Linked DNA regions of Homo sapiens: region 2 is linked to region 1. The links come from fine-mapping of genetic effects on gene expression. Tissue or cell type: whole blood. Region 1 holds a variant in brackets; the other region holds the start of a gene. All regions are shown on one strand. Distances are from middle to middle.

Region 1 (5,381 bases):
CAAAATGCCCAAAGTAGAACTATTTACAGTTCTGTACCTCTTTCTTTCCCACTGTGGGTTTCTCCTCAAATTTGCCAGTTTTCCAGTTTGAACTTAAATATACATATATATTTAGAAGCTAAAACTTCATGTTTTCTTTTATATTTTATATTTTTACACTCATAATTTTATTGGTTTAGTATTTCTAAATTTAACCTAATTACACTCCAACTCTGTAAGAATAAACCTGGAAGGGCCTGGCGTAATGGCTCACGCCTATAATCCCAACACTTTGGGAGGCCGAGGCGGGTGGATCACCCGAGCTCAAGAGTTGGAGACCAGCCTGGCCAACATGGCAAAACCCCATCTCTACTAAAAATACAAAAATTAGCCAGACGTGGTGGCACGTGCCTGTAATCCCAGCTACTTGGGAGGCTGAGGCAGGAGAATCGCTTGAACCTGGGAGGCAGAGGTTGCAGTGAGCTGAGATTGCACCACTGCACTCCAGAGTGGGACTCTGTCTCAAAAATAAAAAATAAAAATAAAGAAGAAACCTGGAAAAAAGATTTTATAAATGACAAGATGTCTAAACAGGATTTTTAAAGCTCAGTGTTAGTAGGAGAAATATACTAGTGAATGCTTTACACATTGGAGAACTAGGAATTTGTGCCCTCATTTCCAGAATTTCACTTTTCACAAACTTCAGGAATATGAGTTTTTTTCCATTGTTATACAGCACCTACCTCCTGGCAACCATGTGCCAAGCATTATGCCAACTCATGGAAACAAACAGGAAGGAAGCATAGTGCCTGCCCTAGAGGCCCCACCACTGGAGTCTCGTTGGAGAGAAAAATAGAACTACAATCAGATAAATGATAACCGCAGACTAGTAAGTAAGCTAAAGCGGGTGTGAGCCTCAGGAGAGCAAACTTCGCCCTGCCCTGAGGAGCCAGGGAGGCCTTCATGGAGCAGGCAGCAGAGGTTCAGAGCAGTATGGGCTATCCCTTCTGGTCCATGCTAGTGATAAAGTCATACCAGTAACAAGAATCAATAAAGGCAGAAGAGAATTCCAACAGCATTTGAAGATGTATATACTATCACTATTTATTTTAAATTACTATAGTAACTGTCAGGGCTTAGCGAGTAAAAGGAACTAAAAATCGTTCTGGTAATAAAGTAATTTAGCAAACACTTACTGTGCATGTGTATATGTATATACATACACACAAAGTTTTATATGAGACAAAGAGATGTAAGAATGTGGTCCCCAGGCATGTGTTTCACATTCCAGGAGCTCCAGATCTGGAAGAGGGTCAGGCAGTGCACAACCAGCCTTGACATAGGCCTGCATGTGTAAGAAGTGCCACATGAATGGTGTGGACAGTAAATATGCTGAGACTTCAGGGACAGAAGACACATGCCTCAGGACCAGTTGCCTAGCTAGAAAATGCCTTCTAGATGAGAACAAGATTTATCAGGTGCCTAAAGCAGTAGAATCGATAGGATTTGCTGAGTGTTGATGATGAGGAAGATAGGAAATTTCAGAAGAAAGGAACATTTTATGCAAAGGTCCTGAACAGAAAAATGACACTATCAGTTATCTTTGAGGAACCTAGAAATTGATCAATTTAGTTGATGCAGAAGGCATGTATTGTTAAAGGATAATCTTCAAAAACAGGCAAAAATATGACTCACATAGAGATATAAAATGAACCTGTATTAAACATTTTATTTAACTTGTTATTAGTGCAGGATGTTACAACCAGTTAAATTCCAAAAAACAGACACATTTATAAATCATCATTGAAATGAATGCAATCAGAGGCAAAACTGGCTTCTTTCATGTGGGGGAGGGAAGTCCACTGAACCTTCACTGGACAGTTTTTCATGTCTATAGACAAGAATTATTTTGCATTGCTATCAGGTATCTACCATTTATACAATTTTAAAATAGCTCAAAGGCATTGACAGGTATAGAGCCCCCATAGACTCAGAATCAGATAACCCCTTGAGAGGTATGCTTTAGTTTTCCATTGTAAACAAACATTTCCTACAGTCTGGCAGAAGTTAAAAAAGAGATCAGGCGGCAGAGGTAGAAAGGGATCAGATTGTGGAAGATCTTAATGCCAGTGGGATGGGGCTGTATGCATACCAGTATCAAGTTGTCAACTTGATGTTAGCCTTAAGGAGACAATGGTCATGAAGGCAGTAATGAAGAGACCTAAGGCATTTGGGGAACATGGCATTGATAAAGATTCTAAGCTAAAGGGGCCTAAACTAAAATGGAGGCAGTGAGACTATAAGAAAGGACGATTATAAGCAAAATTATATAAAAAG[G/GAT]ATAAACATTGGTTGAGAAAAGGAGAAACAAAGGATAACTGTAGTTTTAAGCATGATTTGGAGCGATTTCCATTCAATTAAACAAACAATGAGTGCCTGACACATACTAGGATCTGTGCAAGGTGCTGAAGTCACAAAAATGAATAAGACAGAGCCCTGTCCTCCAGGAATTCTCAATCCCAGAAGGAAGACAGTTATCTACACAAATAAAGTGGCAATGTAAACGCTATAATAGAGGTTGTATCAAGTGCTCTAGGAACTCAGATAAAGGAGGAGTTAATGATGCTAGGAAGGTACACAAGTGTGTGCTACAAGAAGCAACCAAGGAGCAGTGACATTTAAAATAAGCCTTTTATCCAGATGAACAAATTGGGCCAGGGTATGCCAGGCAGCAGGGGTCTCACAGACAAAGGAGAAGTTGAAGGTGAAAAGAGCAGAGTGCTGGGAATGAGGGTAGAAAGGTGGACTGAGCCCATTGCAGTGGGTAGTAGGAGCCGTGCTGAGGGGTCTAGATTATTTTCTATGGGCTATGAGCTCTTCAAGCAGAGGAAACTATACTTGGGGGCAGAAGACAAGAGAAGGCTGTAAATCCGTTATGCATACTGAGTTTTCAGGGAAGGTGAAATATCTCAAGAAAAATAACGGGTTCAGTTTATTATGTGGTCACTCAACAAACACTGATAGAGACTAGAGCACATAAGTAAAGAACGTCATAAAGAGTTTAGTATCAGGAGGTGGGATCTACAAAAGAATGGCTAGAAAAAGGGTAGTTTGGAAAGTGGGAGAAGTCTAGAGATAGTGCTCTCTAGGGCAGGGATGGCCCATCACAGCAGCTGATGCAGGGACATCACGGAAGATGCAGACCAGGAAGAACTGGAGGTTAGCAGCTAGGAGCTCACTGGAAGTGGCTTTGAGGAAGGCTTTTGCTGCAATGGCTATTCATGGATGTGTAGAGTGCATTTTCATAGTCGATGGACTAATGTTAAATACTTTGAAGCTTACTTTCACAAGCTAAGTTATAGTGGCTGATTATGATTGGTAGCACCTAAATAACAAAGCAGCGTGCTAGAACATAATCATGGAACCAGTGATGAGTTCCTTATCTGGCATCTGTGGAGAGCATCTATGAATGAAAGGCATGTGAGCTCACCATTTTACCTTCAAGTGGTTTTCTTCGTTGTACAGACATCTTTTTACAATAAAAGTCCACAGCATTTTATTTCAGATTCTCCAAAGAAACAATAGCCAACAACAAAGAACTACTCATCCAACCGTGATGAGCGTGGGCCTGGGTGGGTGATGATCAAATTAGCCCATTTTTAAAAGTGAAAAAGCAACACTCCAAAATAACTCTTACTTGAGGGAGTTTGTGACCCTTACCTGTTGGAGATTGTATTAATGACAGCCACTAGATACAGTTACTCTCAGAAATGAAAATTCTAGCTGATGAATGAAGTCAGAAACGAATATTCTTTCACATACCTTCCAGCTACATGCAAATGCTTGCTTGTTGATTTGCTCTGCCCTTGGCTTTTAGACCTTTGCTTATGTAGTATTTAATGATGATATAAACATACAATGTGTTAAATAATACCAAAAATTGTATGCTGTACAATGTTTTTCTGTTTGAAGTATTATTTCAACTTTTAAAACAGTCTCATACAGTAAGTGGAAGTTATTTTCTCTTTGCATAATAAAGTCTGATTACTCTGCAAAGGAGCATGTGTCAGAGCAATCAGAATTCAGATCCTTATTGTCACAGATGAATTGTCCTACTATGCTTTGGCATTTCATGAGGAACAGCATAGAAGATAAGAGAAAGTACAGGAAGCTAATTAAGACAGGGCAACATCATAGGATTCTGGGGAAGAAATCCTTTCCAGGAGAACCTGGTGAATACTGTCATTTGCTCAGGAGACTTCAAGGGAAATTATTGCAAAAAAGGCCATTGGTTGGCCATTGAATTGTCCCTGCTGATTTTTCAAATAAAGGTGCCAATAATGTGGCAAGGACAGAAATCAGATTTCAGGGATCAAGAAGAGAGTTGGGGGCAGATGCAGTGGTTCACTCCTATAATCCCAGCACTTTAGGAGGCTGAGGCAGGTGGCTCATTTGAGGTCAGAAGTTTGAGACCAGCCTGACCAACATGGTGAAACCCCATCTCTACTAAAAATACCAAAAAAAAAAAATTAGCTGGGCGTGGTGGTGTGTGCCTGTAGTCCCACCTACTCGGGAGGCTGAGACAGGAGAATCACTTGAACCTGGGAGGCAGAGGTTGCGGTGAGCCGAGATTGTGCTGCTGCACTCCAGTCTGGGCAACAGAGTGAGACTCCATCTCAAAAAAAGAAGAAGGAGAAAGAGAAGAAGAGAGTTGGCAGTGAAGCAGGAAGAGGAAGCATCAGCATTGCATGGGTGATTGAGAATCTGTCAGGAAGAAGGACAGATAATTGAGAATTAGATGAGAAAGGGGAGAGCAGGATCATATGAGGGCTACATGTGTTTTACAGAACGCTCTTATACCAAATGAAGTACAGGAGCTTCACACTGTGCCTTCTTGCAGAGGGTTGTGTCCATTTGTCACAACCCACTTATATTTGGACTCAACACTTTTCTCAGAGTGGTTGAGGATCCTGAGTTAATTGGTTTTATTCAATTGATTGATTCTGATTCCAGAATAGTCATGAGTTACTATCCTCAGTGTCCTTTCTCATTGGCTTTGAAGTGAGCTGTTGCCTGCAGCAAACTCAGGGAGCCAGATGTTTGCTACCTTTCTCTCAAGGGTCTAATGCAGGACAGACATTGCTCAGTGACCTCTAATGCAAGCATTTGCAAGGCGCCAGGCAAAAGGCTTTGTATTTACATCTGCTGGAGTCAGAAAAGAATGGGAACACAAACTAAGTTGCAAGGGTTCTAATGAAGACCCTGGGAGTTTGTGCTTGGACACGGGATAGGTGGGGCTTTTCAGGTTCCCACAATATACTTAGAAAGTGACATTTCTTCAGCTCTGGTGAATAAAATCCTGACAGCAAATTCTGTTACTTATTCTGTTATTAACTTAGCCTGTG
Region 2 (5,381 bases), 77 kb before region 1:
ACCCCAGCTACTCAGAAGGCTGAGGCAGGAGAATCGCTTGAACCCGGGAGGCAGAGGTTGCAGTGAGCCAAGATTGCACCACTGCATTCCAGCCCAGGCGACAGAGTGAGATTGTCTCAAAAAAAAAAAAAAAAAAAAAATCAATGTAGCTAAAATTTAATGAAGTGTTAACTATGGGCAAGATACTATGCTGAGCCCCTTTCATACATAGTGTTATTTATTGTTTCCAACAACTATAGGAAGAAGGTACAACCCCATTTTACAGATGAGGAAACGAAGGCTTAGCAAAGTTAATAGCTTACTTTGGGGCTCAAAGCTAGTAAGGGCTGGTGCCAGGAGCGAACATGGGGCCCTGCCTTGAGAGCCCATGCCATCGTTAATCGCAGGGCACTGTGCAGCCTACCTGTTCATTCACTGCCATCTGAGTCTTGGCAAGCATCAGATGGGCGTAGGTATGAAATTTATTTTCAGATATAATAATTGTTTCAAGGTAAAACCTTTGGGTCTTATTTTACCTAGAATCCATACATTCAAAGTACAAGTGATAAAATCAGTTCAGCAACTCTAGTATGCACATGAATTAAAAAGAAGTCAATCTGGTGAGAGATTTCATCAGAATAAAGTGTATAAGTGGAGTTGGAAATCTGAGTGATTGAGTGCTTGCCATTTGGGTAAGTGTAATGAGTTTGAAAAACTAATTGTATTGATGAAGTATCTTAGGGCCTTTCAGAACATAGTTCTAGAAGTTTTATTTAGTGTTGAATTTTAAAAATTCTTTGTCCTAACAATAAAAGTACATTGTAGTCTTTCCCTTCCATTTTTAAAATGAACTGTTAATCTAGGAAGTCCTGTTTGTGTGTTGATTTGGGGAGTTAGCCCAACATTTGCTATGTTAAATACTTATTAACATGGTTTATTACTTTTTTCTGTTTTTTAGACAACATTAATCATGAATGTACTGGGACTTGGGAAGGATCCTGTGGTTTATGAGATAGTTGGCCAAATCCCACCTCTTCCAACATAACCTGTCATTATTAAAATATAATACTCTTATTTAATCCCCTGGTCAAGCTAAATGATAATGTGAAACAAAGCTAACCAAAATCAGGACACCTGATATCAAGAATTCATGAAATCAAGAGCCATTGTAGAGCAAGGAATCTAATGCTTTTGCTTCTTATCCTTTTCATACAAATAAAATAAGCTTCACTGGGCTTAGTGAGTCTTAGAAATGAGAGGTTTGAGAATAAGATCCATTGTGGAGTGTGTGACATTACAAAAACAAGCCAACTAAGCAGTGTGTACTGTCCCCTTAGAGTGCACACGTTCGGGCTCCGATGCCCCTTGAAAAGACTGCATTTCTGGGAGGGAAAAGTAAAAATGCAGATACCACCATGCGTGTGGAAGGCAGGGAAGAAAAAGCCCAGACAAGCGTCCTCTTGTTGAGTCTCTTTACTGCAACGAGGCTGACGGATGGGGTTTTTCAAAACGTCGCTGCAACCAGATGCAAGGCTGCAGCTTTGCTTACCGCAGCGTGCTGCAGTTGTGTTTATTTCAGGGACAGACACAAGGGGAAGCAGCAGCCAGAGCACACCCGGGCCGCTCACGGGAAGCCTTGCTGAAGAGAGAGGATCCGCAGAAGCTGGGAAATTCCTCCCGCAGCCTAGGCGGAGACTGAGCCGCGGCTCAGGTTGAGACAGTGGGCAGGGGCAGGGGGCGGCGCTCCCGGCCCATCCCTTAGCCCCGCGGCGGCCGTGTGGGCCGGAGGCTGCCTGCACCGCGTCAGGGAGGCCGGCCTAGAAACCCTCCCTCCCAGAAGAAAGCCGATCCCAGTTCAGGTGGGGTCTTCCTCGGTTGCGTACCTGGCTGGAGCCGAGCTGGTGGGCGGCCGGCAGCCGGCGTTTCTGGTGATGACAGCCCCGAAATGAAAGCAGCGCGGCCGCCGCCTCCGAGGGCTGCAGGGAGATCAGCGTCCAGCAAATAAGAAGCAAGTCCTGGACCCGGAGGAGGAGGAGCGGCCGAGCATCTCTCTCTGCTCCGCCGTGTCCTTTAGATGAGCACTCCCGGCCGGAGCCGGAGGTGGATCCGCAGAGCTGCCTCTGGGCGCCTGACCCCGCGCTGACATCACAACCTGTGACAGGCGCATCACGCCCGGTACCTGCTCCCGGCCGCTGCCCGTCCTCCCAGCCTCTTTGTATGCCGCAGACATGGCCAGCCAGCAGGATTCGGGCTTCTTTGAGATCAGTATCAAATATTTACTGAAATCCTGGAGTAATAGTGAGTAATAGAAAATAACCTTTTTGTTTGTTTGTTTGCTGGATGTTGCATAAGGCTGGAGACAGAAAATCTCAACTGGACACATATGTTTGTGAGCCGCGGAAGTTTTTCTTTTTTTCTTTTCTTTTCTTTTCTCTTTCTTTCTTTCTTTCTTTCTTTTTCTTTCTTTCTTTCTTTCTTTTTTTGCTCCCATCTGCTGTGAAAATCAAAATGTCAGAGACTGAACTAGCTTTCCTTAAGTGCAAAGGCTGCAATGGAATTACAGTAGATTGTGTTTGATTAAATTTTCAAGTGAGGCAGCCCTTCAGACTCTGGGGGAGCTCAGGATCAGGCATTCCTGGCTGCATTTCCTGCCTTGATGTTTATTTGATTTGTTCAGGCTTTCTCTAAATATTTTGTGAAGTGTGATTTAATCAAAGGGGTGTGGCAGGGTTTCAGAGTACTTTGTAATTGTTTTTTTAGGGTATTGTCTGAAGAAAGAAAAGTATTTAATAGTCCAAAACCTAGGACATCCTTTTTGTATATAGAGGCATCTGCAGATTTATTTCATCTCTCCCTCTTCCATGTGGATGATGTTCTGAATGCCATTTAATATTTGAATTTTTAAAAATCCTGATGTTTGCTATAGTCCAAATATTGTGCTTTTTTGAAACATAAACAAGTGAGGTTCTGACCCTAATTATTTATTAGGATAGCAGAATATGATGGCTCCTGAAGTTCCATTTCTGACCTACATAAGGATTTTAGCAATACGCTATTTCAAAAAGACAACCTCTAAGCTGCCGTGGATCTGGAATCAAATTAAAATGAGGCCTTCAGGTGATCAATGATGCCTTGTATTTTCCGAACTGTTTAAAAAGAAAGTCTTCTCTATTTCACTAACAGCCTTTGTACTTGCTTTGGATAAAAGATCAGCAGGTATTACTGATGCTTTATTGTTTTAAATAAAAAAATTTTTTCCCCGTGAAAATTTTAATATTGTATTATGTGCATACTGATTAACCTACCTGTGCTCAAAGAGCTAGTGATTAATTGTCTCCTACACAAATGACCTGTGGCCAAGATTGTTCTTATATAAACAAAACCTGGGCAGGAGAACCTGTGCTGCAATTGCTTTGAGGAAAAGAGCTAAAGTACCTTCAGCCTTAAGGTATTCAGGGATGTGCATCTCTAAATGATATCCATAGAAACCATTTTTTCCAGGTCATTTTGCACCACTGTATACACTATGGGGCTTGTCTGAAGCTGTTTTTCTACAAGTGGGAAGCCATTTGGGAGTAATACTGTTGCCCAAACAGCATTCTTTACTTGTCATAGCTATAAATCATTTAACTTGGACTCATTATTTTTATAATACTTTACACTCAAGGATGAATCTTCCTTTGTCTATCTGCTCTTTGATTAATGAAAAGAATTTGACATACAGTGTTCTTTATGGAGCAGTTTTCCAATAACTGAAAAAACTCACTTTTGAGTTGACATCAGTACGTGGTTTTTAAACATATTTGATTATTCCAAGACCAGACTGTTTTCTTCCATCAATTTTTGTCATTGCATCATTAAATAGAAAATTATGTTGTGACAATACTGAGGCCAATGGGATTTCTTTTAAAAATTTCTCTCCCCTTGTCTATTTTCAAATCACTCTAGATAAAGTATATATTCTCTCCACCCTTCCTAAACTCCTCTCCCCACATACATACTTCAGGAAATGATTCAAAATGACTGTTCATTTCTACTTTGAGAATATCTGTGATACAATTTTGAATTCTTCCAATTCATTCAGCAAATATTTATTGAATACCTACTATGTGCCAGGCTGTGGGGCTACACAAGGTGAATAAGACACAGTCCCTGCCCACTATATTAATTTTTTTATTTCAGAGTAGTGAAGTTGGTGGCTTTCCAGCATTCTTTTGAGGGGGAGAATGTTTTTCAGTCCTTTCTTGAAAGAGGAAGAGGAAATATACTTTGTTTATCTTCTTTAAGCTTGTTACAACACTAACCTGCTTACAATCTAGCATAGTTCTCATTGCTAAGTTTTACATATTTTGAGCAGCAAAGAGAGAAAGGAATTTGTCTGTGTAGAAGGCAAAGTAGAAACAGAAGCCCTAAGGCTCAACATACTCAGTGTAACCTTGGCTGAGAGGATGCACCATGAGGCAAGCGGCTAATTGCACCTGCATGCACCTGCACGCGCATGCCTGGCCTCACAAGTTTGAGAGGTGAGGATGTCTGCCCACATACCTGAATGGAGACTCAGCCTCTTAATTATATGGTGGTGCTTATTTACAAAAGTGCAGTAATTAAAAAGCAATAAAACAAACTCTATAACTATGACTGGCTGTTTTGCAAGGTGTTAGAAGAAAGGTAATTCCATAAGCGTTTCCAGGTAAAGCTTTCCATATTTTTTTAAATGGCACATTGTGGGGAAAATGTAATTATATATATATTAGTCCCCTCCAAAGAATTCACAGGCCAATAAATAGATCAGTCGCTGGCTAGTGAGATGTACTAGCTTTCATTCGATGTTCATTTTGGTGTTCTCCTCTTTATCGGCACGTCTACTCTGTCATGCTGCCCTTTGATTTGAATGGAGGTGGGAATTAAAATGGCCTTGATGTCTGGAAATAAAATGTCCTATGTAGACCTGAATATGGAGGCTTTCCTGTCCCCTTGGATGTCTGTCCTGTTGCTCTTCCCTGCTCTTATCCAGCCTTTCCCCAGCTGTCTAGTGGTTCTCACGGCTGCGGCCCCTTGTTAATCATGGCCACAGCCTCCACATGCCCTTCTCAGTTTAACCTGGAATGCTCCAGTGGTGTCCTCACAGTCAAAGGCTGCTCCCCAGCTCCCTTTTGCCTCTGAGTGTCAGTGGTAGCCACTCAGGACCCTCTTTGAGCTCCTCGTTCATCCTCTCTCATGTTTTTCTGCTCCAGCCAACCAAGCTTAATCTACTCACTCTCCTCTGTATTTAACTAACATGCTCCCAAATTCATGCCTGTACACCCATCAGTCTCCTAATAAGGCCTCGCTTACCTAGAATGTAAAAATGGCAGGGCCAAATGGGCTTCAGATCTCTTGCTCCTGCACTTGCATGGCTTCGG

Which allele goes with the higher level. Positions count from the first base shown, and alleles are read on the strand shown. Sizes are in standard deviations (SD) of each study's normalised expression.
For the expression in whole blood of the gene that starts at base 2,186 in region 2, GAT is the high allele of the variant in region 1 and G is the other (small effect, 0.37 SD a copy in GTEx).

The links. PIP is the estimated chance that this variant, and not a neighbour inherited with it, causes the effect. A credible set is the group of variants that fine-mapping cannot tell apart.
Region 2: it holds the start of FRY, and the variant in region 1 is the best candidate, but not a certain one, in a credible set for the expression of FRY in whole blood (GTEx, PIP 0.81).

Annotation. Positions count from the first base shown.
Region 1 is chr13:32,106,842-32,112,222 of GRCh38, forward strand. All of the region lies in intron 3 of FRY (FRY microtubule binding protein), which reads left to right. Among named protein-coding and RNA genes, the nearest start is that of FRY, 78 kb to the left of the region's middle. The variant G/GAT (reference allele first, on the strand shown) is at 2,317.
Region 2 is chr13:32,029,589-32,034,969 of GRCh38, forward strand. FRY (FRY microtubule binding protein) reads left to right here and starts at 2,186. Exons shown (of 61, transcript NM_023037.3): 1 at 2,186-2,277. The coding sequence starts at 2,208. FRY-AS1 (FRY antisense RNA 1) reads right to left here and starts at 2,051. Exons shown (of 4, transcript NR_103839.1): 1 at 1,863-2,051.